3 separate regions of the Homo sapiens genome follow, and regions 2 and 3 are each linked to region 1. Evidence: fine-mapped expression QTL. A gene starts in region 1. Each other region holds a variant in brackets. All regions are shown on one strand. Distances are from middle to middle. Region 1 holds the start of MCFD2 (multiple coagulation factor deficiency 2, ER cargo receptor complex subunit). Region 2 overlaps TTC7A (tetratricopeptide repeat domain 7A). Region 3 overlaps STPG4 (sperm-tail PG-rich repeat containing 4).

The links.
Region 2: its variant is fine-mapped to the expression of MCFD2 in whole blood (INTERVAL, PIP above 0.99).
Region 3: its variant is fine-mapped to the expression of MCFD2 in whole blood (TOPMed, PIP above 0.99).

Annotation. Positions count from the first base shown.
Region 1 is chr2:46,909,621-46,919,218 of GRCh38, reverse strand. MCFD2 (multiple coagulation factor deficiency 2, ER cargo receptor complex subunit) reads left to right here and starts at 3,413. Exons shown (of 4, transcript NM_139279.6): 1 at 3,413-3,496. It also overlaps a transcript of TTC7A not described here. RefSeq lists an enhancer at 2,369-3,343 and a silencer at 3,347-3,426.
Region 2 is chr2:46,948,095-46,956,094 of GRCh38, reverse strand. TTC7A (tetratricopeptide repeat domain 7A) reads right to left here. Exons shown (of 20, transcript NM_020458.4): 2 at 5,569-5,732. Among named protein-coding and RNA genes, the nearest start is that of TTC7A, 11 kb to the right of the region's middle. RefSeq lists a silencer at 671-965. The variant T/A (reference allele first, on the strand shown) is at 3,205.
Region 3 is chr2:47,122,683-47,133,469 of GRCh38, reverse strand. It overlaps STPG4 (sperm-tail PG-rich repeat containing 4), which reads left to right. Exons shown (of 7, transcript NM_001163561.2): 4 at 3,210-3,274; 5 at 3,475-3,529. Among named protein-coding and RNA genes, the nearest start is that of STPG4, 27 kb to the left of the region's middle. The variant C/T (reference allele first, on the strand shown) is at 6,654.

The DNA of each region.
Region 1 (9,598 bases):
TTTTCTATTTATTTTTCCAAATAAGTAATATGTAGTTTACAACATCAAAGCAATACTAAAAGGTGTAAATTGAAATCTTATTTTCACCCCTATTCTCATCCACTCTGGAATCCCCTACATAGGTAAAACATTGTCTTGAGACAATTCAAAACAGCTGAGGAAAGAGATGCCACCTAGAGGCCATTCTGGTATCTTGGGATGGCCGTCCTATCTCCTGATAAAGCCACCTCTCTGTCTCTACTTGTACTAGTTTCAACCTGAGTACACAAAGTAAATGGGGTATTTCAGCAAGGTTCCAAGTTATGAGACTCCTGGTTGCAGGTAAAGAGATCCTCTCTTACCTAGTCGTTACTTTCTTTAATCTCTGCTTTCAAATCAGTTATTTCCAACGTAGAGTTGCCCTTCTCTTGAAGGAGTCTGCTGAAAGCTACTAAAAAAGGCAACACTCACTAATGTTCCATATTGCTCGTGAGATTTCTCCAAAAATATAGCATTGGTTGGCATGTGGCCTATATCCAAGGTCCAGCAAGTGACAGTTTCACTACGGCTTATAAGGGTCACCAACTTTCCAGTTTGACATACAGTCTTTTAACACTGGCTACCTTAACCTCCAGTTAGCCAATTCCATATTTTAGTGTCTTGTTTTTAGCATCCTGCTTCTGGTACCAAATTATTTGCCTGTTAGGAATGGGTTCAGCTACAAGTTACAGAACACCCACCTATAAAATGGCTTAATCAAAGGTGGCTTCTCACTTATGGACTACAGTAGGGCAAGAATGGAAGCAGGACGGTCAGTTAGGAAGCTCTCTCTCAAGTAGTCCAGCAGCATCATCTACTACTGGACTAGATGGTTTAGTGGAGGTGGAAAGAAGTCAAAGACTCAGGATACATTTTGATAGCATCAACAGGCTTTGCTGAAGGATTTAAAGGTAAAGGGATGAGATAAATCAAAAACAGCTCGTAGAATTTTAGCTTGAACAACAGAATGAGTACCAGTGACATTTACTAAAATGCACAAGACTGAGAGAGGTGCAGGTTTGGGGGTGAAAATCAAGATTTTGGGGGGACACATTAAGTTTGAGATGCCAGTCTGACATTCATATGGAGACATCAAGTAGGCAGTTATTTACAGGAGCCAGGAATTACACAGAGAGGTCATTGTCAGAGAGACATATTTTGGAGTCATCTATTTATAAATGGTATCTAAAGCACAGGACTAGGTAAACTCACATAGGGAGGGTGGATAGAGAAGGTGACTCAGAACAGAACCCTGGACACTTTGATAATTATAGATTGAGAAGCCAATTAAGAAGCCCAAGAAAGGATAATGAGTGAGGTAGCAGAAGGACCCAGAGTGTGTGGTGTCAGAAAACAAGAGAAGAAAGTGTTTCTAAGTGAGAGTGGTTGGCTTTGATAAAACAGTGTTGAGAGGGCAAGTAAAATAAAAACAAGAGATCAAAGAGACCACTAGATTTGCATGGAGATTGCAGTTTCAGTGGTATGGTGGGGGAGAAAATACAGCAAGTTTATATGTTGATGGGAATTATCTGGTAGAGAGGGAGTGACTGTAGATTCAAGAGAGACATAACACAGGATAACATCCATAGGAAAAAAATGAAAGCACTGGCTAGAATGAGGACACTTTATCCATCTACCAGACACCAGCTTCTTGACACTTCATTTGTCTTATTTGTATCTCTAGTAGCTCCTAGTAGAGCGCCTAGTACATAGAAGATATTCAAGAAATGTTATTGAATGAATAAATGAACAAAGGGAGGGGTGGATGAATGGATGAAGAGATGGATGAATGGCAGATGCAGGGTAGAAGGAGGAACTAGATCAAACTAATCCAAAGTTCAGAGTAAGGAAAGAAGAATGGGTCTTGAATTAATAGGGTTTCCTCAAAACTTAGGGATTCTTTGTCCCGGCGCGGTGGCTCACCCCTGTAATCCCAGCACTTTGGGAGGCGGAGGTGGTGGGAGGATTGCTTGAACCCAGGAGTTCGAGACGAGCTGGGCACCATGGAGACTCTTTTCTTTAAAAAAAGAAAAAAAAATTAGGGATTATGGGATTTTTCTCTGGGATGGGGTGGCAGATTTCAATCTCAGATGAAGGTGGGAAAAGGAATGAGACCGTCAATGGCAGTGGCGTTAGGCAACTTTCAAGGCATCTAACTACTTAGCCACTTTCTTTGTCTTTCCTGTCCGGACCCAGGCTCATTTGAAAAACGATTATGTACCTTTATGGACAGAAATGGGAGAAGGGCTTTAAAAAAAACGACCGTCCTGCCGGGAGTGGTGGCTCACGCCTGTAATCCCAGCACTTTGGGAGGCTGAGGCGGGAGGATCAAGAGGTCAGCAGTTAGAGACCAGCCTGGCCAACACGGTGAAACCCCGTCTCTACTAAAAATACAAAAATTAGCCGGGCAAGGTGGCACGCGCCTGTAATCCCAGCTACTCGGGAGGCTGAGGTAGGAGAAGAGCTTGAACCTGGGAGGCGGAGGTTGCAGTGAGCCGAGATCCCACCACTGCACTCCAGCCTGGGACAGAGCGAGACTCCGTCTCAAAACAAAACAAAACAAAACAAAAAAACAAAACGACCGTCCTACACTCATTTATCCATCAGGTCAATGGATACTTACTGAATGTTAATCTTGTATAGGAGCACAGGTGTAAGGGCAGGATTATACAGGGATGAATTCGATACAGGGATGATGTATTCGTTTCCCTATTTGTTCATGAGTCTGTTTTTAAGTAATCTGTCCTCTCTTGAATGTCAAAAGCTGCTGATTTCACGAACGGTACATGGAAGATGGTATTTGAACTGGGTCGCATAGTCTTGCTGGGACTCCCGTGGAAGCGAACGGGGACAGCGGCTGCCGCAGCTTGTGCAGTGGAGCTGGCAGACGCTGGAAGCAGGCCAATCTTGAAACGTAGGGTCCAAGGCCGGCTCCAGCGTGTTGTGGTCGTTTCATCAAGAAGGAATTAGCATTCCTATTATCTTTCTTCCCAACTTGCAGCAGGACGAACCAAGAGACCTGAACCAAGAGCCCTGTATAGGAGGGGGTGAGCGGAGTTGGGAGCCAGCTTTGGGGTCCGCCCCATCCGGATCCGCCATCCTACGTCGCCCGTGGAACTACGTTCCTGAGGGCTTCCGGCGTTGCCTAGCAACTGCCGGGCCCCTAGGGCGTCCAGCGGCCCAACTGGAGTGGAGCCGAGTGTCGCCCTTGGGAAAGCAGGTAGAAGAACTGCGTCAGTCCCGCCAGTGCTGGGCCCGGGCCGATTACACGTGGACTCACGCGAGCCGTCCTCACAGCCCGCCGCCGCCAGCGGGAGGGGCCCGGCGGCGCCAATGGGCGGGCGGCAGGGAGCGCGCGTGCGCAGGGCAGGTCGGGGGGGGGGGGGGGGCGGGGCGAAGCCGAGGAAGAGCGTTTTGGGGACGGGGGCTGGTGAGGCTCACGTTGGAGGGCTTCGCGTCTGCTTCGGAGACCGTAAGGGTGAGTGAACTAGCGCACTCTCCGCAGCGGGCGGGATCCCGGCGCCTCTCCTGTGGGCTGGAGGCTTGGGCTCAAGATGAGAGGCAGGAGTAGTCTGGGGGCGCGGGCTGGGCCCCCAGGCCGTCTCGGGACGCTTAACCGGCTAGGAGCACGGCCTGTCTCCCGGGGCGGAAGCCTGTGCCCCACCGGGGGCTCTGGAGCCAGACGGGGCCGACTGGGCAGATCTCCGCCCCCTTCCCTGGTCCCTAGGGGCCCGAGGATCGGCCTGTGGGACCAGCTGTGTCGGGTGGACACTGCTCCTGGCCCGGCCCAAAAGCAGCGGGCCGGAAGCCTTACTCTCCCTCTGCTCCTTGTTCCCTCTCTCGGGGAGACCACAGGTCCTGTCGGGCCCGGCGGGGGAAGCTGATCTCCTGTTGTATTCCCTCTCTGGGCATGGCCATCCACCCGGGTGCCCAAGCCAGAATTGGGCATCATTCTCACTTGCTTCACTCCTTTACCCACCCACATCGAATCCCTTGCAAAGTTGTCTTGGATACGTTCATTCTCCAGTCCCATCCCCCTGCCCTACCTAGTTCAGGCCACCTTTTCTTCTCTGGACTACCTCGGTGTCTTCCTGATGATCCCTGCATCTCTTCTTCATCCTCTGTAGTTTGTTCTATACAGAGAGGCTACAGCCATGGTCTTAAAACAGAAATCTGATCATGTGACCAGAAGCGTCCCCCCATTCCCTTATCACCCTTTGGTGGATTCTCATTGCTCTTCCAAGCTCTTGAACGGGGCTTGCAAAGCCCTTCATGACCTGTCTTCCTTTAACTTTAGATTCATTTGTCTCGACTGTACTGTGTCTTCAACCATACTGAATCTTTTTTGGTTCTTAGATCAGAACAAGTTCCTTCTGGGCTTACATGTTCCTTCAGTATGTTCGCTATGTCTGAGGCACTGTCCTTTGGTTGAAATAATCCTTCTTATCCTTTATGTGTTATTTCAGGTGTCAGTTGGGGATTTCGTGGTACCCCATGGGTGTCTGCCTGCCGGTCTCTCTTTTCTACCAGGTTGTAATCTGTGTGAGAGGAGTTTGTCGAGGTCATAGTACTATCTTCAGTACCTTGTGCTGTTAGTACGGTCATTAAATGTATAAATGCAGCATGGGTGCTCCTTGGGCTCCCTAGATGAACAAATAGATCAAGTTATTAATATTAAATGCCTGCTTTTTCAGAACCAATTCTCAACCCTCAGTCCGTGTAGAGGTTTCTTTAGCTTAGGAAGTTGGTTATTTTCTTGCCTTCATTCCAGGACCATGACAGGGGTAAGTGACAAAGTACTGGTCAGTTTTTCTTTGGCATTGGCTGTGGGTACAGGATGTCTGGATGTTGGTGAGTTTGGCTGCTTTGGGTTTGAATTCTTAACCAAGGGCCCCTTGAGGGAGAAGCTGCTACTAGCTGCTGGCAGGAAGGCTGGCCCCAAACTTAGTGCTGATAGGACTGATGACACACCAGGAAGAAAGGGTTGGGCCAGGTCAAACCACTGGAAGCCTCCAAAGGAAGTTCCAGCTTAGGCTAGATCCGCTGTGGGATAGGGAACAATACACCTAGGTGCCAAGACTCACTTCCCTGATTCAGCGATGAGCCAGGTCAGCTCAGCAGAGATCAGTAAGGTAAATGAGAGCCAGAGGAGAGAGGGTCCTGACTCTCAGAGAGGGAGGAAAAGAGAAAAATGGAAAAGGAGAACAACCTGTGATCGTATGTTCAGGTCAAATGAGTGTGAGAGGCTACAGACTGAGGTCGGATGAGAGAGCAATTGGTCTTGGCTGGAAGAATCCTGAGGTGACATTTGAACCTGTCCTGGAAGGAAGTTGGAGATGGACAGATGGAACCAGTAGGAGCGGAGGCTGTGGTACAGGAAGAGGCTGGCAGAGCAGGAGGGGAGCACTGTGACAGCCAAGGCACTGGGAGGCGCACTGCTCCTGATGGTCCAGCACTGCCCTCCCAGGACTGAGGCTGCGCCTTGTGAGGGCTGTCTCAAGGTATGGGTTGTGCCCTGAAGTCCCTTTGCAGAAATTTCTCCTCCGTTGGGTTTTTCTTCAGCCTGGCCTTTATAATTTCCTAAAGAAGGCCAGTGAGCTGGGGCTTATCTTCAGGCTGTTAGCCCATGGCCTTGAGCTAAGTAGTTAGAGCATGGATGATGCAACCTGTTATTTGGGTAGAGGGAGTTGCTTATGCTTTCTCTTGACTGTCAGCAGTTTAATTTGTTAGGTGGCAGTTAGATTCCCTGTTTTCTATCTTTCCCTCCCTCGCCTGCCTTCTTTCCTTTCTTCCTCTCTCTCTCTCTCTTTTTCTAATTAGAGAGGGAGTCTCACCATGTTGTCCAGGCTGGTCTTGAACTCCTGGGCTCAAGTGATTCACTTGCCTCAGCCTCTCAAAGTATTGAGATTACAGGCATAAGCCACCATGCCCAGCCCGATTCCCTGTTTTCAGTGTACCACTTGGAGGAATTTTTTTTCTTTATGTTTATCGATTTGGCTTTTGTTGCATTCCAATGATTAGAAACCTGCAACAGCAAACCAAAATGAGACAAGTTCAAAATCAGTGATTCTTGGCCTTTATCCCACCTCCCTTAAAGAAGGGATATTTTGGACTCATAGTTACTACATGATTAATCACTTGGTTGCTTTTTGGTGTTATCTAAATAGAATTTCCCCCACCCCCAACACACACACACCAAATTGATATACTAAGCATCCAATCACATAGTTGGAGGAAATGGTGCCATGAGTTCCATGATAGATATCTCCAAAAGAAAAGTTTCATCTTCAGTTACAGTGACATTAAAAATTGGCAGCATATCTGCAAAGGTGGTAATCCCCCCAGCTCCCCAAGGACCATGGCACACAGGCTAAGAACCAGCAGCTTCTGTTCCAGGCACTGTGCCTGATACTGGGAATGTGGATTCAGTCCAAGTCCTCTTAAAGCCCATCCAGCAAGGGGCACTGACAAGTAATCAGGCAGTTTTTCAAGAATTCATTCACACACAAGAAAACAAAAGAAAAAAAAGAATTAATTTGCAGCTGTCATCAGCTGTGGACGGGAGCCTTCTGAAGGGAAGCACTTGGGAGCCTGCAGGACGAATACCTACACCAGACTTGGAATTGAAAAGACCTCACTGGAGAAAGAGACATTTGATGTAAATGAGTCTGAAAGGCTTGGGAGGAGCTTGATTCCCTTCTCTGATCCTTCCTGTCCCAGAACTCTAAGATGTGTGGTCAGAACAAGTTGTTCTGCTATGGCCTAGGCAGTCACTGCTAGGAGTAACCTGAAACCTTGTTTTGTGGTACCAGGTACAGTGGCAGTGGCCTTGTCAGGGTCTGGACACGTTTAAAAAATTTTTTTGAGACAGTCTCACTCTCTTGCCCAGGCTGGAGTGCAGTGGTGTGATCTTGGCTCACTGCAATCTCTGCCTCCCGGGTTCAAGCAATTCTTGTGCCTCAGCCTCCCAAATAGCTGGGATTACAGGTGCACGCCACCATGCCCAGCAAATTTTTTTTTGTATTTTTAGTAGAGACGCATTTTGCCACATTGGCCAGGCTGGTCTCAAACTCCTGACCTCAAGTGATCCACTTGCCTCGGCCTCCCGAAGTGTTGGGATCATAGATGTGAGCCACTGTCCCTGGCCAAGGTCTGGGCACTTTTATTTGGTAAAATTGGAAGTGTAGTTTCTGACTGTTTCTGAATTATTTTGTGGAGATAAGAATTAACCGGAAACTCCTTTTGTATCCGATCCATATAGTATTGGGACAAAATTATGGGATAGATTACATTGAATACATATTCATAAAAAATGGTAGCAGATCTCGGCTCACTGCAGGCTCCACCTCCGGGTTCATGCCATTCTCCTGCCGCAGCCTCCCAAGTAGCTGGGACTACAGGTGCCCGCCACCACGCCTGGCTAATTTTTATTTTTGTATTTTTAGTAGAAACGGGATTTCACCGTGTTAGCCAGGGTGGTCTCGATCTCCTGACCTCGTGATCTGCCCGCCTCGGCCTCCCAAAGTGCTGGGATTACAGGCACGAGCCACCATGCCGGCTGAAAATCACAATTCTAATCTCATGTCTCAAGATAATCTTTGTTATTAGTTTGTGTAGGAAATACACATTTTTATTTTACAAAAGTGTATTATTCTTTATTGCTTTTTTGCAGCCTGTTCTTTTTCATTCAATATATATTGAGCATTCTTTCCTATTAAGTATGACATATTGCTTTTTTTTTTTTTTAAACTACAGATATAAAAGGTCTGAGGTGGCCGGGCACGGTGGCTCATGCCTGTAACCCCAGCACTTTGGGAGGCCGAGGCGGGTGGATCACCTGAGGTCTGGAGTTCGAGATCAGCCTGGCCAAGATGGTGAAACCCTGTCTCTACTAAAAACACAAAAATTAGCTGGACGTGGTGACATGCACCTGTAATCCCAGCTACTCGGGAGGCTGAGGCAGGAGAATTGCTTGAACCTGGGAAGCGGAGGTTGCAGTGAGCCAAGATTGCGCCACTGCACTCCAGCCTGGCGAAAGAACAAGACTCTGTCTCAAAAAAATAAAAATTAAAAAATAAAAGGTCTGAGACAGATTGCATTTTGATGTCACTGTTTAGAAGTAGACTAGATTCTAGGTGCTTTTTAGCACCCTGGAAGTTTCTTCCTTTTTTTGGTGGTGGAGGACAGGGTCTCACTCTGTTACCCAGGCTGGAGTGTACTTCAGCCTTGAACTCCTGGGCTCAAGCAATCTTCCTATCTCAGCCTCCTGAGTGGCTGGGACTATAGGGGTGCACTGCTACGCTCAGCTAATTTTTTATTTTTTGTAGAGATGGGGGTCTGACTGTGTTGTCTAGGCTGATCTCAAACTCCTGGCCTCAAGTGATCCTCCTGCCTCAGCCTCCCAAAGTGCTGGGATTACAGGTATGAACCACCATGCCTGGCCTATCCTGGAAGTTAGACATCCCAGTGACTATTGTCCCCTTTAAGGAGGGGGCCATGGGAAGCAATACTGGTAATGGGAAAAACGGATTTGGGAAATTTTTCTAAGTGTTGTAGGGTGGCATACTCACACTTTCAGGGTTCTGCCCTGAGAGCCTTTTAGGATGGGTAAGAGGGACTATAACACCTCTACCTCTCAGCCCCAGGCACAAAGACAGCTACAGCTTCTGAGCTGAGCCCTGTGTGTAGCATGTAAAGGGGATGACCAGTGCCTTATGGTTTGTCTTTACCACTGCTGGTTTGGGGCTGTGGACTACAATTGACCTGTTAGAAATCCCTGGCCTTGTTATCTAGCAGAATCTGTTTTGCCTGTTGGGAAGTGAGTGTTCGGTCAGGTCTTTTGTTTTTGTATGTAGGTCACCTGGCTGTCCTTCACCTTCCTTTTTGAGGTCAGTCTGTCAGCCCTAGGACAGACCAAGACTTTCCATTGAATCAACAATTATTAAAGGCCTGCCTGACCCTTGGCGGGTAATACTGGTGGGGTTAAAGTTCTCCCTGCCCTCCAAGAGCTTGCTCTGTAGCTGACTGTCATCTTATTGACCACAATTCCAAGTGTGGCCAAACCCTGGGAGTTCCTGATGGCATCCTGATTTCTCTGTAACTTTTCTTTCCAGTGCCCGCTCACTGTAGTTACTTGCCACTGTTACCACCCAGGAGGTACAGAACCTTGTCCGCTGCCGCAGACCTTGATCTGACCCGCCTTACCACTCCCTTGGCTACCATGCTCCTGCCTCTAGTCTTGCTTTTGCCACTTCATGCCTTCCCCACTGTGCTGCCAGATGAGTCATTCTGAAACCAAGCTCTGATCTCACCTCCCATTCATGAATTGTAAGTGACTCTCCTGTCTTTCTCTGCAGGAGATGTCAAGCCCTGGCCTAGTGTGCAAAGCCCTGTCCAGTACAGCCTGTCTAGGCCTTGGAGCCACCTCTGTCCTGTCTGCTTCCTACCCTCTAGGCTGCAGCCCAGCTGAACTACTTGTAGTTTCTTTCCCGCTTGTGGGCACCTGCCACTCTGCTCCCACCATTCCTGTGGTCCTTCAGTCCCTGCATATCTGTCCAGGCCCAGCTGAAGTGTCACCAGC
Region 2 (8,000 bases), 38 kb before region 1:
CTACTGTGGCTTGGGATCCTGTGCTGTTGCCTGAGGGAGGCTGTGCTGGCCCTGGGCTGTGCCACCCTGGCACGTGAGTTCTGACCTTGGACATGGCCCCAGTTCTCCTTGTAACCTCCCGCCTCTGCAGGCCATTTGCTCTGGCCCCCTGCCTCTGATCCTGTCCTCAGCTGGCTCACAATGCCTATGGGCCAGGCCCTGGGCACTGCTCCCGCCACACAGGCACCAATCTGTCCATAAAACTCCCCGAAGATGCAGCTCTCATCCCACACCTGGCATTTGTCACTGGCAGGAAGGTGCTACCCCTGTCTCCCTGTAGGGAGGTAAGAGTCTGGGGTCCCTGTGACCCCAGGGCAAGCCTCCAGCACTCCTTACCATCTACTGCCCTCTCAGAAGCCAAGAGAAATGAAGCGTGGCACAGACAGGCTCTGGGGAAGCCAAATTCACCTTCCCAACTGGTCCTTCTGGCCTTTGTAAATCCACATTCCTCTTTTGCCTGTGCTTCCTCAGGTCCCCTTCCCCCTGGCCTAACCAGGTCCTCTTCTATCCTTTGGGGCCTTGCTCAGGCCCACCTTCTCCTGAAAGCCTCCTTGACTACCAGGGAGCTCCCTTCAGCTGAACTCCTCCAATGCCTCTACCAATGGGCCCATTCAGCCTCTGCACGCCTGACCTGCTCTCTCTATTAATTAACTCTCCAAAGCTGAATCTTTTGAGGGGATTTGCTAGTCTTCCCAGATAGGCCATCCACTCCCTGGGCCAGGGCCACAGATGACACATCCCAGAGGTATGTGGCCCACAGTCCTTCCAAGCTGGGCAGTGACTCTGCGTTCCCTGCACTGGTCTCAAGCCACGGGCTCATTTCCTCCCTGCTCGGGCTGCGTCTTCCTCGTGGGTGAGGGAGAGATAATAACACCTACTCCTCACTGCCTATCACAGCGATGCTGAAGGCATTAATAGGGCAAAGTCCAGAAAAGAGCTTTGAACTTTTCTTTGGAAAAGAGCAAGATAAATACAGGGTATGCGTATTTATCATTATCCTGCACATGGAGACAAGGGCAGTGAGGCAGAGAAGGACATTTCAGGCATGCTGATGGGGTGTGGCTAGTGGCGGTTCCTGGAGGACCAGTGGCAGTTTACAACAGAGCTTCCACCAAGCTGGGGAAAAATTAGACAATGCAGGGCATGTTTTATAAAGCCACATTTACACTATTTAAAAAAATGCTCGGCCGGGTACGGTGGCTCACGCCTGTAATCCCAGCACTTTGGGAGGTCGAGGCAGGCAGATCACCTAAGATCAGGAATTTGAGACCAGCCTGGACAACATGGTAAAACCCGTCTCTACTAAAAATACAAAAATTATCCGGGCGTGGTGGTGGGCGCCTGTAATCCTAGCTACTTGGGAGGCTGAGGCAGAAGAATCGCTTGAACCCGGGAGGCGGAGGTTGCAGTGAGCCAAGATCGTGCCACTGTACTCCAGCCTGGGTGACAGAGCGAGACTCCGTTGTCTCAAAAAAAAAAAAAAAAAAAAGGCTCTTAGTTCTGAAAGGATATCTACCTTGCCCTTTCAATGCTAAACTGTTTTTCTGTTATAGCACAGTAAGAGCAGAAGATGGTATCATTTTGCTGCTATTTTTTGCTTCTTAATGTCCTTACTTGGCAACATTAAGAGTCCACTGCACTCTGTGGGGCCCATGCATTTGAATGTGAAATATTCTTGGTCTATCAGTACAACAGTCAGGGAACGGAACCCCTTGCCCAGTGGGAGGGTGCCACGGGGGAGGTCGCTTTACCAGAGGAACAATCCCCTCTACTGTGTGGATCAGCGCATCACCTACTCCTTTTGTGCCTCACTGTCCCTGTCAATAAAAGGGGAAAAAGGACTTCATGGAGATATCCAGGTATGAGGAAAGAACGGATGAGGAAATACTTCACAGACTAACGTGGGAACTATAAAAGTGGGGGTGTGATCACCATCTTTCACATGAATCCAACTTTCCCAGTCATTATTTTATTTCCACCCCAGTACTCTGGGAGGCAGTACCAAGAAATGAGAGACAGCATTAGAGCATGGGCTGTAGACACTAAAGGCCTGGGTTGTGATCACCTTTCTTGGGTCTCAAGAGATGGAGCTTGGCAGGGCACAGTGGCTCACACCTGTAATCCCAGCACTTTGGGAGACCAAGGCAAGAGGATCGCTTGAAACCCAGAATCTGAGACCAGCCTGAGAAACACAGTAAGAACTGTGTCTCTACAAAAAATTGAAAAAAAAAAAAAAGAAAGAAAGAAAGAAAAAGAAATGGGGCTAATAGTAAATACCGTTGCAGAAGGTTCCTTGGAGGCCTGCATGCGATGGTGCAAAGCCTCAACCTAGTAGCAGAACAGAGTTTAGGACAAGTGGCTTGTTTTCACTGATCTCCACACAACTGAGCTGGACGGGGTCTTAGAGAGATAACCAAGAGGAAAGGGTTTCAAGCTTTCCCAAGGAGGGGCCTCAGGACCCACCTCTCCCAGCTCTCCTTCTCATCCAGCAGAGCTACTTGGATGCACAGGAATCCACCTGAGACTGCATCAGCTGCCAAGAAAGGTCACGCCAACTGTGACCTGATCTTTGCGGGTGAGATAGAAAATACTACAAATGATGGCCGGGCATGGTGGCTCACGCCTGTAATCCTAGCACTTTGGGAGGCACAGGTGACAGGACTGCTTGATCCCAGGAGTTTAAGACCAGCCTGAGCAATATGACAAGACTTTGTCTCTACAAAAAAATTTAAAAATTAGCTGGGTGTGGTGGTGCATGCCTATAGTCCCAGCTACTCAGGAGGCTGAAGCAGGATGATCACTTGAGCCCAGGAGGTCCAGTCTGCAGTGAGCCATGTTCACGCCACTGCACTCCAGCCTGGGTGACAGAGTGAGACCCTGTCTCAAAAAAGAATCCCACAAACGACATTTAATATATTATTTTACAGATCATCATTAAGTTTTTGGCTCTGGCCTGGATAACAGTAAATTTCTGCACATTATTGGTGCCTATATATGTCTTTGTTTAACAAAATATGGTACAATTTGTATTTAATAAAACCGTTGTCACAATACATGTGGTTACTATTCAGCCAATACAAAGAATGAGACAATACTGGCATGGAGAAAGCTCTAAATAAAACTTCTTGGTGAAAAATATATATCTTACAACTCTATGAAAAGAAA[T/A]ATCTGTGTGTATATATGTTTGTAAATGCACAAAGAAAGGCATAGGAGATGCACATCAAATACTGACCAGTGCTCAACTCTGAGGATGGGTGTGGGCATGAGGGTGAGGTTGGAAAACAAGAACTTTTTTTGTGTGTGTGAGACAGGATCTTGCTCTGTCACCCAGGCTGGAGTGCAGTGGCATGAACACAACTCACTGCAGCCCCAACCTCCTAGGCTCAAGTGACCCTCCAGCCGCAGCTTCTTGGGTAGCTGGGACCACAGGTGCAAGCCACCACGCCTAGCTAATTAAAAAAATTTTCTGTAGAGATGGGGTCTCACCATGTTGCCCAGTCTGATCTCAAACTTCTGGCTCAAGCAATCCTCCCACCTTAGCCTCCCAAAGTGCTAAGACTACAGGCGTGAGCCATAGGCCAGCTGGGACTTTTATTTATCACTCAAATTACTTATTTGTTGACTGGAATTTTTACAATAAGGCTGAATCATGTTTATTTTAAAAACAATTTTTAAATATTTAATTTAACATTTAATTATTAATTTAATATTTTTAAAACGAAAAGCGGTCTTGGTGGGAAAAGCTTGAACCCCACCAATCTGGTCCAACCCTTTTGACCAGCAGATGAGAAACTGGAAGGTCTGTGGGGTCAAGCATGCTCAGGGTCAGGCAGCTATTTTAACCCAATACAAACCTCCCAGTGCTACAATACCTGTCAAGGAGCCTAAAAGCAGTAACCTTAAACTTCTAGTACACACTCCCCTCTCCCCTGGCCTTTCCCTCCCTTACAAAATAAGCCCTGCACATCCTGGCCTGGTGTTCCAGTCTGCCCTTACTAGCCCCAAAGTACCTTTACAACCTTGTCTAGATCCAGCCCCAGAAGGATCCAATTCTAGTACTGCCATTACTCAGAGTCTGCTCTCTGCTTATCCCCAAAGAGCATCCCCCTCAGACTTGCTTCCTCGTGGATAGCACTCCTATCACGGTCTACCTTGGAGGAAGGCTATTTACTTGCTGATAGGACTTATCTTCCCAAGAGACCTGCAACCTCCTTGAGGGCAGGGTCCATGCTGGATTCGTCTTGATTGCCTTCAGAGTGCACAACACAATGCCTTGCACACAGTACGTTGGAATAAAAGGTTTAAGGAAGTGAATATATTACTTTGGAATAGCTCTTTAAAAATCAGCTGGGCGCAGTGCCTCACTCCTGTAATCCCAACGCTTCGGGAGGCTGAAGTAGGAGGATCGCTTGAGCCCAGGAGTTGGAGACCAGCCTGAGTAACACAGCGAGACCCTGAAGAAAATAAAGACAGACAGAAAGACAGAAAGAAAGAGAGAGACAGAGGGGAAGGAAGCAAGGAAGGAAGGGAGGGAGGGAGGGATCACTTCCTCTTTGAGTTTTTTTTTACCCCCTCCCCCTCCTCTTTTGAGTTTCTAATGACATACCCATGCCACTATTATAGTTCAGGATACATTGTAATCTAACACAGCCACAGCCTCAAACTTGGATGCACATATGAATCACCCAGGAGAGCTTGTTAAAACACAGATTCTAATTCTTAATTGCATTTCTTTTTTTTTTTCTCTTAATTGCATTTCTAACCAGCTCCCCAATGATGCCTACACTGCTGGTGGGTGGACCACATTTTGAGCAGCAAAGTCCAGAGAAAGTTGTGACCATACTCCTTCTGGGAGGGAGAGGTGGGTCCTCTACCTCCCTCAGTGTCTTGTACTCAGTAGGTGCTTGATAAATACACGTGGACTTAAATGGGCTTGCCCTGTTATGGAGCTCTTCTGTCCCTAGCCAACTCTGCATGTTTGCCTGTTTCTAACTAGGTCACAGGTTCACTGAGGTTTTATTTTCCTGAGAGCCCCCTGACCCAAGGAGCCCAAAGGGCCAGGCACATATTAAGTCAACCAAGCACTGTCCAAAAAAATATGATGTAAGCCACAAATGTGAACCACATGTGTAATTTAAAAATTTCTACTAAGATTTTTTTTAGTCACACTGAAAAAGGTAAAAGGTGAAATTAATTTTAATAACATGTTTTATTTAACCCAATATATCCAAAATATACCATCTGAACATGTAATCAACATAAAAAGTTACTGCTCTTTTCTATTCTTTGTTTTGTACTAAGTCTTTGAAACCTTGTGTATGCTTTATACTTACAGCACATCTCAATGTGGACTAGCCATACTCCAAGTGCTCAAGGGGCCATGTGCAGCCAGTGGCTACTGTAAGTGCAAGGGCAGCTTGTAAGAGAGACTTGTTGCTCAGGTGACCAAATGACTCAGGGAGGACTGGACAGATGCGAGGCAAGACAGACGAGGAGAGGAGGTCTCAGGCTTGAAGGCTGACGACTTACCGAGAGCCTCCCATGGTTAAGGATACTGCTTAGATAATTTTTGGCTTCGCTCATCTTCGGCTCATTCTTCTCCAGCAAAGGCATGGAGTCTTTTATTTTGGCATGGTTCTCCTTCAAACACTGCTCCAGGAGGGCCTCAGCCAGCAGCAATTTCCCAAAGTCATCTGAAAAGCAAAGTAGGGGTCAGAGCAGCAAACCCCGAACAAGGCGGATAATGGAGGGAGTTGCACACTCCTGGACCCACCCAACCACCCATACCCAGTACATGAATGGCTCAGGTCTGAGAAAATAAAGGCACATTTTTCATAAATTTCAACAGCCTTTAAAGAAAAGACACAGGCATTCTACTATGGTCACAATACAAATTGCCCCTTGGATTTATTTTCTGCTGTAGTTTAATGGTTGGGAAGACAGAGTTCCCAGGACTCGGGGACAAATTCCCAGAATTTCAGAATTTAAAATAAGGGACAAAGTCATACATATGCTGTGCTGTGGATAATAAGTTCTTAAACCAAGAAGAATTCTCCCCAAATGATTGAAGAGAAAAAATACATGAAGTGGTTTAATAATGTACTTTTACATGCTCCTAATTTCTATGTAACCATAATTGGTTTTCCCCATTTTTAAGTGTTTTTGTTTGTTTGTTTGTTTTAAACAGAGTCTCACTCTGCCACCCTAGCTGGAGTGCACTGGCATGATCATGGCACTCCCAGGCTCAAGTGACCCTCCTGACTCAGCCTCCCAAAGTGCTGGGATTACAGGCATCAGCCACCATACCATCCAGTTTTTAAGGTAATTTGACATGACTCAGGATAACCTAGCAGCCACAGTAGAGTTAGGTGGGAAGCAGATCTACTTGTTGCCAAGGCAAATCCTCGAACATGTTGAATACCTGCATTTTCTGGAGTTCTCTCACATATAGGGTATACCCGCAAATGAGGGTAGCTCATTTGCATCCCTCACCACCTGGTAGGTGGTTTTATACTGCTTGGTTTAGTGAGCGCAGTGGCTCACACCTGTAATCCCAGCACTTTGGGAGCCCAAGGCAGGCAGATCACTTGAGGTCAGGAGTTTGAGACCAGCCTGGCCAACATGGCAAAACTCTGTCTCCACTAAAAATGCAAAAATTAGCCAGGCATGATGATGGGCACCTGTAATCCCAGCTACTCGGGAAGCTGAGGCAGAACTGCCTGAATTCGGGAGACGGAGGTTGCAGTGAGCCGAGATCACACCACTGCACTCCAGCCTGGGCAACAAAGTGAGATTCTGTCTCAAAAAATAAAAATAAAGATAATATACTGCTTGGTTTATTTGCTGCCTCCCTTTACCACACTGAAAACTCGTCTTGTGACCACCAGATTCCTGCTACCTACAGCAGAGGTGGCTCGAGCATGGGAGCCGGGTGTTCAGTGTGCAGGGTCTGAGGTCAAGATGGTTTCACCATGGTTCTTGGGTGGCTGTGCTCATTGCCCCTCCCAGCAACTGGGGTGAGGAGCAGGCCCACCATTCAATATAAGCACTGAGTAAATACCTGTTGAGTGAATTGGATCCTCTCAACTACCCCACAGCGAAGCCATCAGGATCGAGAGTTAAGTGCCAATCCAAAAACATCCCTAGGAATGCCTGCTTGGTGCCATCTTTTTCAAAGTGCTCTTTTTGCTACCAGTACAGTGTTCTCAGATCTACAGGGCTGCCATTGCCTCCTCACTCTCAGGATACCACAGTCTGCTAACATCTCATAGCCACTAGTCCAAAACTGCATGCCTTAGCTGGGCACAGTAGTGCAAGCCTGTAGTCCCAGCTTCTTGGGAGGCTGAGGTGGAAGAATTGCTCAAGCCCAGGAGTTCAAGACCAGCCTGGGCAACATAGGGAGACCTCGTCTTTAGAAAAACACAAAAAACTTCATGCCTCTGAAGAAGAATCTCTCACCGTAAGGGAGATTCCCCACAGAGAACGGTTCTAAAGCCCAGAATCCCAAGAACACCATCGCAGGGGGGTTTCGTTCTGAAGGCACCTGTTATGGGATCCTTTGCTATGTACCTCATGACTTTTAAAATTAACATTTTAAGGAAATGGTCAAAAAAGTACCTGGTTCAAACTATCATTCATTGCTGGCAGACTATAAGTTGGTAGAACCTCTAGGGTAATTTGGCAACGTACATCAAAATTATTTTTGAACATCCCCATAGATCCAGTCAGTCAGAGCCACATTCCAGAGCTGTGGGCCTTGGGGAAAGTTGCTCCCTGCTTCTAACCTGCTTTGCCTCTGTAAAGCCAGGGGTGGGGTTTGAAGTCAGAGCCTAAAGAGGGAAACACACCCCTCAGGATGCTGGCCCCGTCCCCCAGCTGGTCCCCGCCTTGTTGCCCCCTTTCCTCTGTGCACTGGCAGGACTCCGTGCCCTTGGGCCACCGTGCCACCAGATACGGCACCA
Region 3 (10,787 bases), 210 kb before region 1:
ACTGGCCAGGCATGTTGGCTCACACCTATAATCTGAGCACTTAGGGAAGCTGTGGTGGGAGGATCGCTTGAGCCCAAGAGTTTGAGACCAGCCCTGGCAACATAGTGAGATCTCAACTCTACAATAATTTTAAAAAATAGCTAGGTGTGGTTGCACATGCCTATAGTCCCAGGTAGTCAGAAGGCTGAGGCAGGAGGATCGCTTGAGCCTGGGAGGTTGAAGCGCAGTGAGCTATGGTTGCGCCACTGCATTCCAGCCTGGGTGACAGAGCAAGGCCCTGTCTCAAAAAAAAAAAAGAACTGAGAAGCATATGTTGGAGTTAGAAATATATATATGCACATATATATACCATTAGACCCAAGGAAAATGGAACCAAGTTTAGCAATGAACAGGAAAACAGTCTCCTACATAAAGCAGCTGACTATTCAACACTTTATGAAAAAAAAGCCCCCTTTCAATTACGTTAAGTAGCAAAGAATGGTAAATGCCAAGTATAGTAGGACAAATATAGATGTTACAGGTAACCAATATTCCTTTCCAGAGTAATGCTAATAGTTTTTCCATGAGCACTTCATTATGGAAATCTTACATGGATTGCTCAGTATAGATAAATAAATGACTGCTTTAAGAGGTTTTTTCCCCTTTTCAGTTTTCTTTTTTTGTCTCCTGTTTATATCTGTGTATGTGCGAGAGAGAGAGAGAAAGAAGCATAAAGCAAATATGCACATTTTAAAAACAGAAAGCAAACATCCACGTAATTGTCATCAGAATCAGGAAATAGGACATTGCTGGCCCCCAGGAATGCCCAGTTCAAATTGTGTTTCTGTGCTTCTATAAGACACAAGAATGACACAAGAATACCTTTGTTTCCTTGGTGTTTATGATGTCAAGTGAGCACTCAAGCAGCACAGGTGCATCAGGAAAATGCATATATTTCACCATTAAATTTGTATTGACTGTTATCATCACTCTATCCACAAAAAGCTGCTTCTGCAATCAAAGTTGTGTACTAATATGGGAAAGACAGCTGCAGGGTGAAATATAGTAGTGAACTTCCATGTGCCAGCGAGTGCTGGGAGGTAGATGCCTTTTTAACAAAAGCGGTATTGTTTCTTAAAATCTGACATAAAAATAATAGGGAGTGGAGGGGATTATTCACTTCAGGTCCTAGGATTTTATAATATAACTCTTCCCCTCCTCCCTGCCAGCTCTGGATGTCTGGATGATCTTCTCCTCCTGGCTTCTCATTCTCCTTCCTTCTTTCCCTACCTTCCTTCACATATCTTCCTATTTTTTTTTTTTTTTCAGAGTGAGTCTCGCTCTGTTTCCCAGGCTGGAGTCCAGTGGCACGATCTTGGCTCACTGCAACCCCCGCCTCCCAGGTTCAAGTGATTCTCGTGCCTCAGCTTCCCAAGTAGCTGGGATTACAGGTGCCCACCACCACGCCTGGCTAATCATTGTATGTTTAGTAGAGACAGGGTTTTGCCATGTTGGTCAGGCTGGTCTTGAACTTCTGACCTCAAGCAATCCACATGCCTCGGCTTCCCGAAGTGTTGGGATTACAGGCATTAAGCCTCTCCTGTCTATTTTAACCAGTTCCTGACATTCTTATATCATAACTGTGGGCTAATGTCCCTAGACCCAGGGGCAATGGAGCCACCCGGGTTGTTTGCAACAATTTCCTGATGGAAATAGTGTTAGATGTGAGGCCTCTCTTTCTTGGAAGACCCTTGCTTGAGCTCCTTGAGGAAGTCCTGCCTTTCTTAAAAGCCTCCCTCAAATCTCATCATCTTTGTCATCTTGAGGTCACCCAGTTGGATTTAATCTCTTCCTACCCCCATATCTTCAATCTGTCTTTTAGCACTGATGACAGTGGTTTATGTTAGGATTGTTTCTGTAGGTGCCTCTCACTCCTGCTGGTCAGGGACCGTAGCTCTCTTAACCACTGTATTCCCTAGTACTAGTGCTGCGCTTTACCCCAGAGCAGGCTCACTAAATGGCTGAATTGATTTGTTGAATCTAGAATATTTAAAGTGTGATCACGGCTGGACATAGTGACTCACATCTGTAATCCCAGCACTTTGGGAGGCCAAACTGGGTGGATTGCTTGAGCTCAGGTGTTTGAGACCAGCTTGGGCAACATAGTGAGAGTTTGTCTCTATTAAGACCAAGAAAATTAGCCAGGTATGGTGGTGCGCATCTGTGGTCCCAGCTATTTGGGAGACTGAGGTGGGAGGATCACTTGAGCCTGGGATGTCGAGGCTTCAGTGAGCTGTGATCACGCCACTGCACTCCACCGTGGGCAACAGAGTGAGACTTTGTCCCTAAATAAATAAATAAAAATAAGATGTGATCAGGTCAGGTACAGTGGCTCACACCTGTAATCCCAGCACTTTGGGAGGCTGAGGCAGGAGGATTGCTTGAGCCCAGGAGTTCAAGACCAGCCCGGGCAACATAGTGAGATCCTGTCTCTACAAAAAATAAAAAAGTAGCTGGGTGCAGTGGCACACACCTGAAGTCTCAGCTACTTGGGATGTGGAGGTGGGAGGAGCACTTGAGCCCAAGAGTTTGAAGCTGCAGTGAATTATGTTCATGCCATATCATTCTCCAGCCTGGATAACAGAGAACCTATCTCAAAAAAAGAAAAAAAAATGTGGCTGGGCACGGTAGTTCATGCCTGTAATCCCAGTACTTTGGGAGGCTGAGGCAGGTGGATCACTTGAGGCCAGGAGTTCAAGACCAGCCTGGCCAACATGGTGAAACCCTGTCTCTACTAAAAATACAAAAATTAGCTGGGCGTGGTGGTGTGCACCTCTAATCCCAGCTACTCGGGAGGGTGAGGCAGAGAATTGCTTGAACTGGGGAGGCGGAGGCTGCAGCGAGCGGAAATCACGCCACTGCACTCCAGCCTGGGCGACAGAGCGAGACTCCATCTCAAAAAAATAAAAAGAAAAACTGTGATCAATTTGACATTTTCCTATGCAGCATCTCAGGTATGCTGTCTATAAAATTCACCATGAAGACCGAATCTATGTTAAATGTTTTGAAGCTCCACCTTTGGAAATGTACATTTTCCTTTTCCACTATTAAAGTAAAGAAGGAATTATCCAATGTTGTATGGTCATAAAATAAAAGATTACGAATGACAGATAACGAAGTGAGTTTACAACCTCTATTAATCTATTGGTGTCCTTGTCCATTCTGTGCAGTCACTTCAGCTTTCTCCGGGGCAATACAACGTGCTTCCTGCACCAGTTCCCAAATATGCTTCCAGGTAATTATATACTTATTAAATAAGCTGCCTTTCTGTTTACATACCTACACGCCAATACTCCTGGCTTTTAAACCTCATTTATGCACCTCATATGCAAATTAACATTTTAAAATATTTAATGAAAGGTAGGGAATAAGTTAACAAAGATCTTTAAAAAATAGATTTAGAAAATCACTTTTCTTTTTTATTTTGAAATATAGGAGCTGTGTATTTCGCTCAACAGTTCAAAGATTCCCAACAACCTATTTTATTCCCGTAAGTATAATGTAGACAGTTAACTCATGATGAATTTGATGTTTAAAATACGCTGTGCTTTCTGGAGTGGAGCAAGGTGGCCACATAGAACCCTCCAGTGATCGTTCCCCCTAGCAGGAACACCATTATCCACACAATTATCCACACAAGAAAACACCTCTGTAAGAACCAAAAAGCAAGTGTGGGATCGCAATACCAGGTTTTAACATTGTATCAAGGAAAGAGGCACTGAAGAGGGTAGGGTAGAAAAGACAGTCTTGAATTACTGACACTACCCTCCCCCATCCCCTGGCAGCAGCCACGTGGCATGAAGAGAGAATCTGCCCTTGGGGAAGAGGGAATGCCGTGACGGGGGGACTTTGCACGGGAACACCGTGCTGCCTGTAACAGGGAAAGCAACACAGGACAGAATTCAGCTAGTGCCCATGGAGGGAGCATTTAGACCAGCACTAGCCAGCCAGGAATTGCCCATCCCAGCCGTTCGATACTGAGTTCCAGCTCTCCCTACCACTGTGGGCTGAAGTGCTCTGAGGTCCTAAATAAGCTTGAAAGGCAGTCTCGGCCACAAGGACTGCAGTTCCTGGGCAAGTTCAGGTGCTCTGCTGGGCTCAGAGGCAGTGGACTTAGGGTACACAAGACCTAGTGAGACACCAGCTGGGGCAGCCAAAGGAGTGCTTGTAGCAGCCATCCCCCAGCCCCAGGCAGCACAGCTTGCAGCTTCAAGAGAGAGGCCTTCCTTTTGCTTGAGAGGAGGAGAGGGGAGAGTAAAGAGGACTTGTCTTGAATCTGGATACCAGCTCAGCCACAGCAGAATAGGGCACCTCAGGCAGAGTCCTGAGGCCCCCATACCAGGCCCTAGCTCCCAGACAACATTTCTAGACACATCTCTGGCTGGAAGAGAATCCACTGCCTTAAAGAGAAGGACCCAGTTCTGGCAAGATTCATCACCTACTGACTAAAGAGCCCTTGGGCTTCGAATAAACACCAGCAGTGGCCAGACAACACTCACTGCAGGCCTTAGCCAGTGCTGTGCTGCTTCAGGTGTGATCCAGCACTTTCCCAGCTACAGTGGTCACAGAGAGAGACTCCTGCTTGAGGAAAGGAGAGGGAGGAGTAAAGGGGATTTTGTCTTGCAGCTTGGGTACCAGTTCGGCCACAGTGAAGTGGAGCACCAAGCAGGCTCCTGGGGTTCCCAATTCCAGGCATTGGCTCCTGGATGTCATTTCTGGACTCCCACTGGGCCAGAGGGGAGCCCACTGCCCTGAAGGGAGAGACCCAGGCCTGGCAGCCTTCCTCACAAGCTGACTGAAGAGCCTTGAGTGAACATTAGTGGTATCCAGGCAGTACTTGCTACAGGCCTGAGTGGCATAGAGAGATTCTTTCTGCTTGAGGAGAGGGGAGGGACGAGTGGAAAAACTTTGTCTTCTGGCTTGGGTGCCAGCTTAGCTGCAGTAGTATAGAGTACCCAATAAATTCCTAAGTTTCCTGACTCCAGGCCCTGGCTCCCAGATGGTATTTCTGATCTGCACTTGGCCCAGGGGGCAGCATGCTGCCTTGAAGGGAAGAGCCTTTGGGCCTTGAGTGAACATGGGCAGTAGCTAGGCGGTAGTTACTGCAGCCCTTGGGTGAGACCCAGTACCATGCTGGCTCTGACCCAGTGCAGTCCCAGGGATATTGGCCATAGAGGTGCTTGTGTCACCCGTCCCTCAGCTTTAGGCATCTCAGCACAAAGAGAGACTTCGTTTGTTTGGGGGAAGGGAAGGGAAGAGAACCAGAGTCTCTGCCTGGTAATCCAGGGAACTCGCTCAGATCTTATCCAAGACTACCAAGGCATTACCTCTACAAGTCTACCAGAATCACAGCAATTACTAGGCTTGGGGTGCCCTCTAATGCAGACACAGCTACGGTGACCAAAGACAGATTACAGCACTTAATTCCCTTTGAATACTTGGAGAGCCTTCCCAAGAAGGACAGGTACAAACAAGACCAGCTGCAAAGACTACAATAAACACCTAACTCTACAATGCCCAGACATCGGCAAACATATACAGGTATCAAGACCATCTAGTAAAACACAACCTCACCAATCGAATTAAATAAAGCACGAGTGATCAATCCCAGAGTGACACAGATATGTGACCTTTCAGACAGACACCTCAAAATAGCTGTTTTGACAAAGTGCAACAAAATTTAAGATGACACAGAGAATGAATTCAGAATTCTATCAGATAAATTTAGCAAACAAATCAAAATAATTTTAAAAAATCAAGCAGATACTCTGGAGCTGAAAAATTCAATTGACATGCTGAAGAATACATCAGAGTCTCCCAATAGCAGAACTGATCAAACAGAAGAAAGAATTTGTGAGCTTGGATGGGGTGCAGTGGCTCATGCCTGTAATCCCAGCACTTTGGGAGGCTGAGGCAGGCAGACGGCTTGAGGCCAAGACTTCAAGACCAGTCTGGCCAACATGGCAAAAGCTTGTCTCTACTAAAAATACAAAAAGCATCTGAGTGTGGTGGTGCACACCTGTAATCCCTGCTACTTGAGAGGCTGAGGCATGAGAATCGCTTGAACCTGGGAGGCGGAGCTTGCAGTGAGCCAAGATTGTGCTGCTGCGCTCCAGCCTGGGCAACAGAGTAAGACTCTGTCTCAAAAAAAAAAAAAAAAAAAAAAAAAAAAAAAAAAGAATTAGCTTGAAGACAAGCTATTTGAAAATACAGTCAAAGGAGACAAAAGAAAAAAGAATGAAGCATGCTTACAAAATCTATAAAATAGCCTCAAAACGGCAAATCTAAGAGTTATTGGCCTTAAAGAGATAGAGAGAGAGATTGAAGTAGAAAGTTTATTCAAAGGGATAATAACAGGGACCGTTCCAAACCTAGAGAAAAATAGAAATATTGAAGTACAAGAAGGTTATAGAACACTAAGCATATTTAACCCAAATAAGACCACCTCAAGACATTAATAATCAAACTCCCAAAAATCAAGCACAAAGAAAGGATCCTAAAGCACAAGAGGAAAGAAGTAAATAACATACAATGGAGCACCAATACATCTGACAGCAGACTTCTCAGTGGAAACCTTATAGACCAGGAGTGAGTGGCATGACATATTTAAAGTG[C/T]CGAAAGAAAAAAACTTATCCTGGAATAGTATATTCAGTAAAAAATCCTTAAAATGTGAAGGATAAATACTTTCCCAGACAACCAAAGCTAAGGCATTTCAACACCAGACCTGTCCTACAAGAAACGCTAAAAGGAGTTCTTCAAATTCTGAAAGGAAAGGACATTAATGAGCAACAAGAAATCATCTGAGGCCAGGTGCAGTGGCTCATGCCTATAATCTCAGCACTTTGGGAGGCTGAGGCAGGAGGATTGCTTGAGTCCAGCAGTTCAAGACCAGCCTAGGCAACATAGAGAGACTCCATCTCTACAAAAAATTTAAAAATTACCTGGGCATGATGGCATGCACCTGTGGTCCCAGTTACTCAGCGAGGCTAAGGTGGGAGGATCACTCGAGCCCAGGAGGTCAAGGCTGCAGTGAGCCATGTGTGTGCCACTGCAGTCCAGCCTGGGCAACAGAACAAGACCCTGTCTGAAGAAGAAGAAGGAGAAGGAGAGAAAGAAGAAAGAAGAAAGAAGAAGAGGAAGAGGAGGAAGAGGAGAAAGAAGAGAAAGAAGAGGAAGGAAAGAAAGAAGAAAGAACCCTAAAACTTAACGTGGAACCACAAAAGACCCAGAATAGCCAAAGTCATCCTGAGCAAAATGAACAAAACTGAAAGAATCATATTACCTGACTTCAAATTATACTACAGAGCTATTGTAGCAAAAACAGTATGGTAGTAGCATAAAAACAGACATAGAGACCAATGGAACAGAATAGATAACCCAGAAATAAATCCATATATCTACAGTGAACTCATTTTTGACACAGGTGCCAAGAATACACATTGGGGAAAGGACAGTCTCTTCAATAAATGGTGCAAGGAAAACTGGATATCCATATGAAGATGAATGAAACTAGAACCCTATCTCTTGCCATTTTACAAAAATCAAATCAAAATGGATTAAAGACTTAAATCTGGCTGGGTATGGTGGCTCACGTCTGTAATCCTAGCACTTTGGGAGGCCAAGGCAGGAGGATCCCTTGAGCCCAGGAATTCGAGACCAGCCTGGGCAATATAGGGAGACCCTGTCTCTAGTTAAAAAAAAAAAAATTAAATCTAAGACCTCAAACTATGAAATTATCAAAACAAAACATTGAGGAAACTCCAGGACATTGGTCTGGGCAAAGATTTCTTGAGTGACACCCCACAAGCACAGGCAACCAAAGCAAAAATGTGTAAATGGGATCACATCAAGTTAAAAAGTTTCTGCACAACAAAGGAAACAATCAACAAAGTGAAGAGACGACCCACATAATGGGGGACAATATTTGCAAACTATCCGTCTGACAAAGGATTAATAACCAGAATATATAAAGAGCTCAAACAACTCAATAGGAAAAAGGTCTTTTTTTTTGAGACAGCGTCTTGCTTTTTCACCCAGGCTGAAGTGCAGTGATGCAAACACAGCTCACTGCAGCCTCGACCTCCCTAGTGTAAGCAATCCTTCCCCTCAGCCCCTCAAGTAGCTGGGATTACAGGTGCATGCCACCACATCCAGCAAATTTTTGTATTTTTTTGTAGAAATGGGCTCTTGCCATGTTGCCCAGGCTGGTCTTGAACTCCTGAGCTCAAGCGATCTGCCCACCTTGGCCTCCCAAAGTGCTGGAATTACAGGCATGAGCCACCATGCCCAACCTCAATAGGAAAAAAATCTAATAATTTGTTTAAAAAATAGGCAAAAGATCTGAATAGACATTTCTCAAAAGAAGACATACAAATGGCCAACAGGTGTATAAAACGGTGCTCAACATCGTTAATCATCAGAGAAATGCAAATCAAAACTACAATGAGATATCATTGCATCCCAGTTTAAATGACTTATATCCAAAATACAGGCAATAGTGAATGCTGGCGAGGATGTGGAGAAAAGGGAACCCTTGTACACTGTTGGTGAGAATGTAAATTAGTACAGCCACCACGAAGAACAGTACAAAGGTTCCTCAAGAAAGTAAACATAGAGCTACCATATGATCCAGCAATCTCACTGCTGGGTATATACCCAAAAGAAAAGAAATCAGTATATTGAAGAGGTATCTGGTGTTTGTTGCAGCACACTGTTCACAATAACCAAGATTTGGAAGCAACCTTAGTGTACATTAGCAGATGAATGGATAAAGAAAATGTGGTACATATACACAACAAAGTACTACACAGCCATAAGAAATAATGAGGTCCTCCTATTTGCAATAACATGAACAGAACTGGAGGTCATTATGTTAAGTGAAATAAGCCATGCACGGAAAGGCAAACTTTGCATGTTCTCATGTATTTGTAGGAGCTAAAAATTATTAATAAAACAATCAAACTCATGCAGATAGAGAGTAGAAGGATGGATACCAGAGACTAAGAAGGGTAGTGGAGGATGGAGAAAGGGGAAGTGGAGATGGTTAATGGATACAAAGATATAGTTAGATAGAATGATAAGATCTAGTATTTGATAGCACAACAGGTGATTATAGTCAACAATAATTTATTGTACATTTAAAAATTGGCTGGGCACGGTGGCTCACACCTGTAATCCCAGCACTTTGGGAGGCAGGCGGATCATTTGAGGTCAGGAGTTCAAGACCAGCCTACCAGCCTGGCCAACATGGTGAAGCCCCACCTCTACTGAAAATACAAAAATCAGCCAGCTGTGGTGGCATGCGCCTGTAATCCCAGCTACTCAGGAGGCTGAGGCAGGAGAATTGCTAGAACCTGGGAGGCAGAGGTTGCAGTGAGCTGAGATCGCGCCACTGCACACCAGAATGGGCAACAGAGTGAGACTCCATCTCAAAAAAATAAATAAATAAATAAATAAAATAAAAATAAGAGTATAATTGGCATGTTTGTAACATAAAGAAATGATAAATGCTTGAGGTGATGGATACCCCATTTATCCTGCTGTTACTATTACACATTGTATGCTTGTATCAAAATATCTCATGTACTCCATAAATATATATACCTACTATGTGGCCATAAACATTTTTCAAAATAAAATATACTATGAATCCTTTTGCTATAGTAAGATTAACATTTTGCTCATCATAGTAGATAAGCTCTGAATGACTAATGCAATTGATTTAAGATATACATAAAGTATATCTGAAGATATACGAGAAATGAGTAACCAATTTGTGGCAAAGTGTAGAAGAAAATGTTCGGCTCCTTTACTTTCTTTAGGTCTTGACTGAAATACCACTTTCTCAGGAAGGTCTTCCCAAGTCACCTATTCAAATTTGCTGTCCCCTTCCTTGGTTTATTTTTTACTTCATAGCATTCATAACTGTCAGACACAATACCTTTTAAAATGTATCTACTCTGTTTTTATCTTTCCCCCTCACTAGAACGTAAGCTTATGAAGGCAGGGATTTCTTTCCTGTATACCTAGCACCTAGGCAAGTGACTGGCACATAGTATTTGGTGAATTAATTAATTAAATCGCTAGAGATATTCAATAGATCATGGTATTAACAAAAAGGAAGCACCTCTCTGTTTCTTTCCTTTTAAAGATATGAAAATGCTTTTCTATTTCTAAATATTTCCAAATGCATGACCATGAGTTATGATAAAAAATGAACTCTTTTAGATAAATAGCTAGTCAGTAGGATGTCAAAAAAATAAATAATTATATAAATCATCTGAAAGAATAAGAAAATATAAAATTGGCTGGGCACAGTGGCTCACGCCTGTAATCCCAGCACTTTGGAAGGCTGAGGCAGGCGCATCATTTGAGGTCAGGAGTTTGAGACCAACCTGGCCAACATGGTGAAACCCCGTCTCTACTAAAAATACAAAAATTAGCTGGGCGTGGTGGCATGCGCCTGTAATCCCAGCTACTCAGGAGGCTGAGGCAGGAGAATGGCTTGAATCCGGGAGGCGGAGGTTGCAGTGAGCCAAGATCACACCACTGCTCTCCAGCCTGGGCAATAGAGTGAGACTCAGACTCAAAAACAAAAACAAAAACAAAACAAACAGACAAACAAACAAAAAACAGAAATAAAATATAAAATTGTTTTGGGATAGTTTGATGCACTATAATTTATTTGTAGTTACAAACTCAGGATCAAAAAAGACCGCATAGCAAACATCTGCAAAAAAAAAAATTGA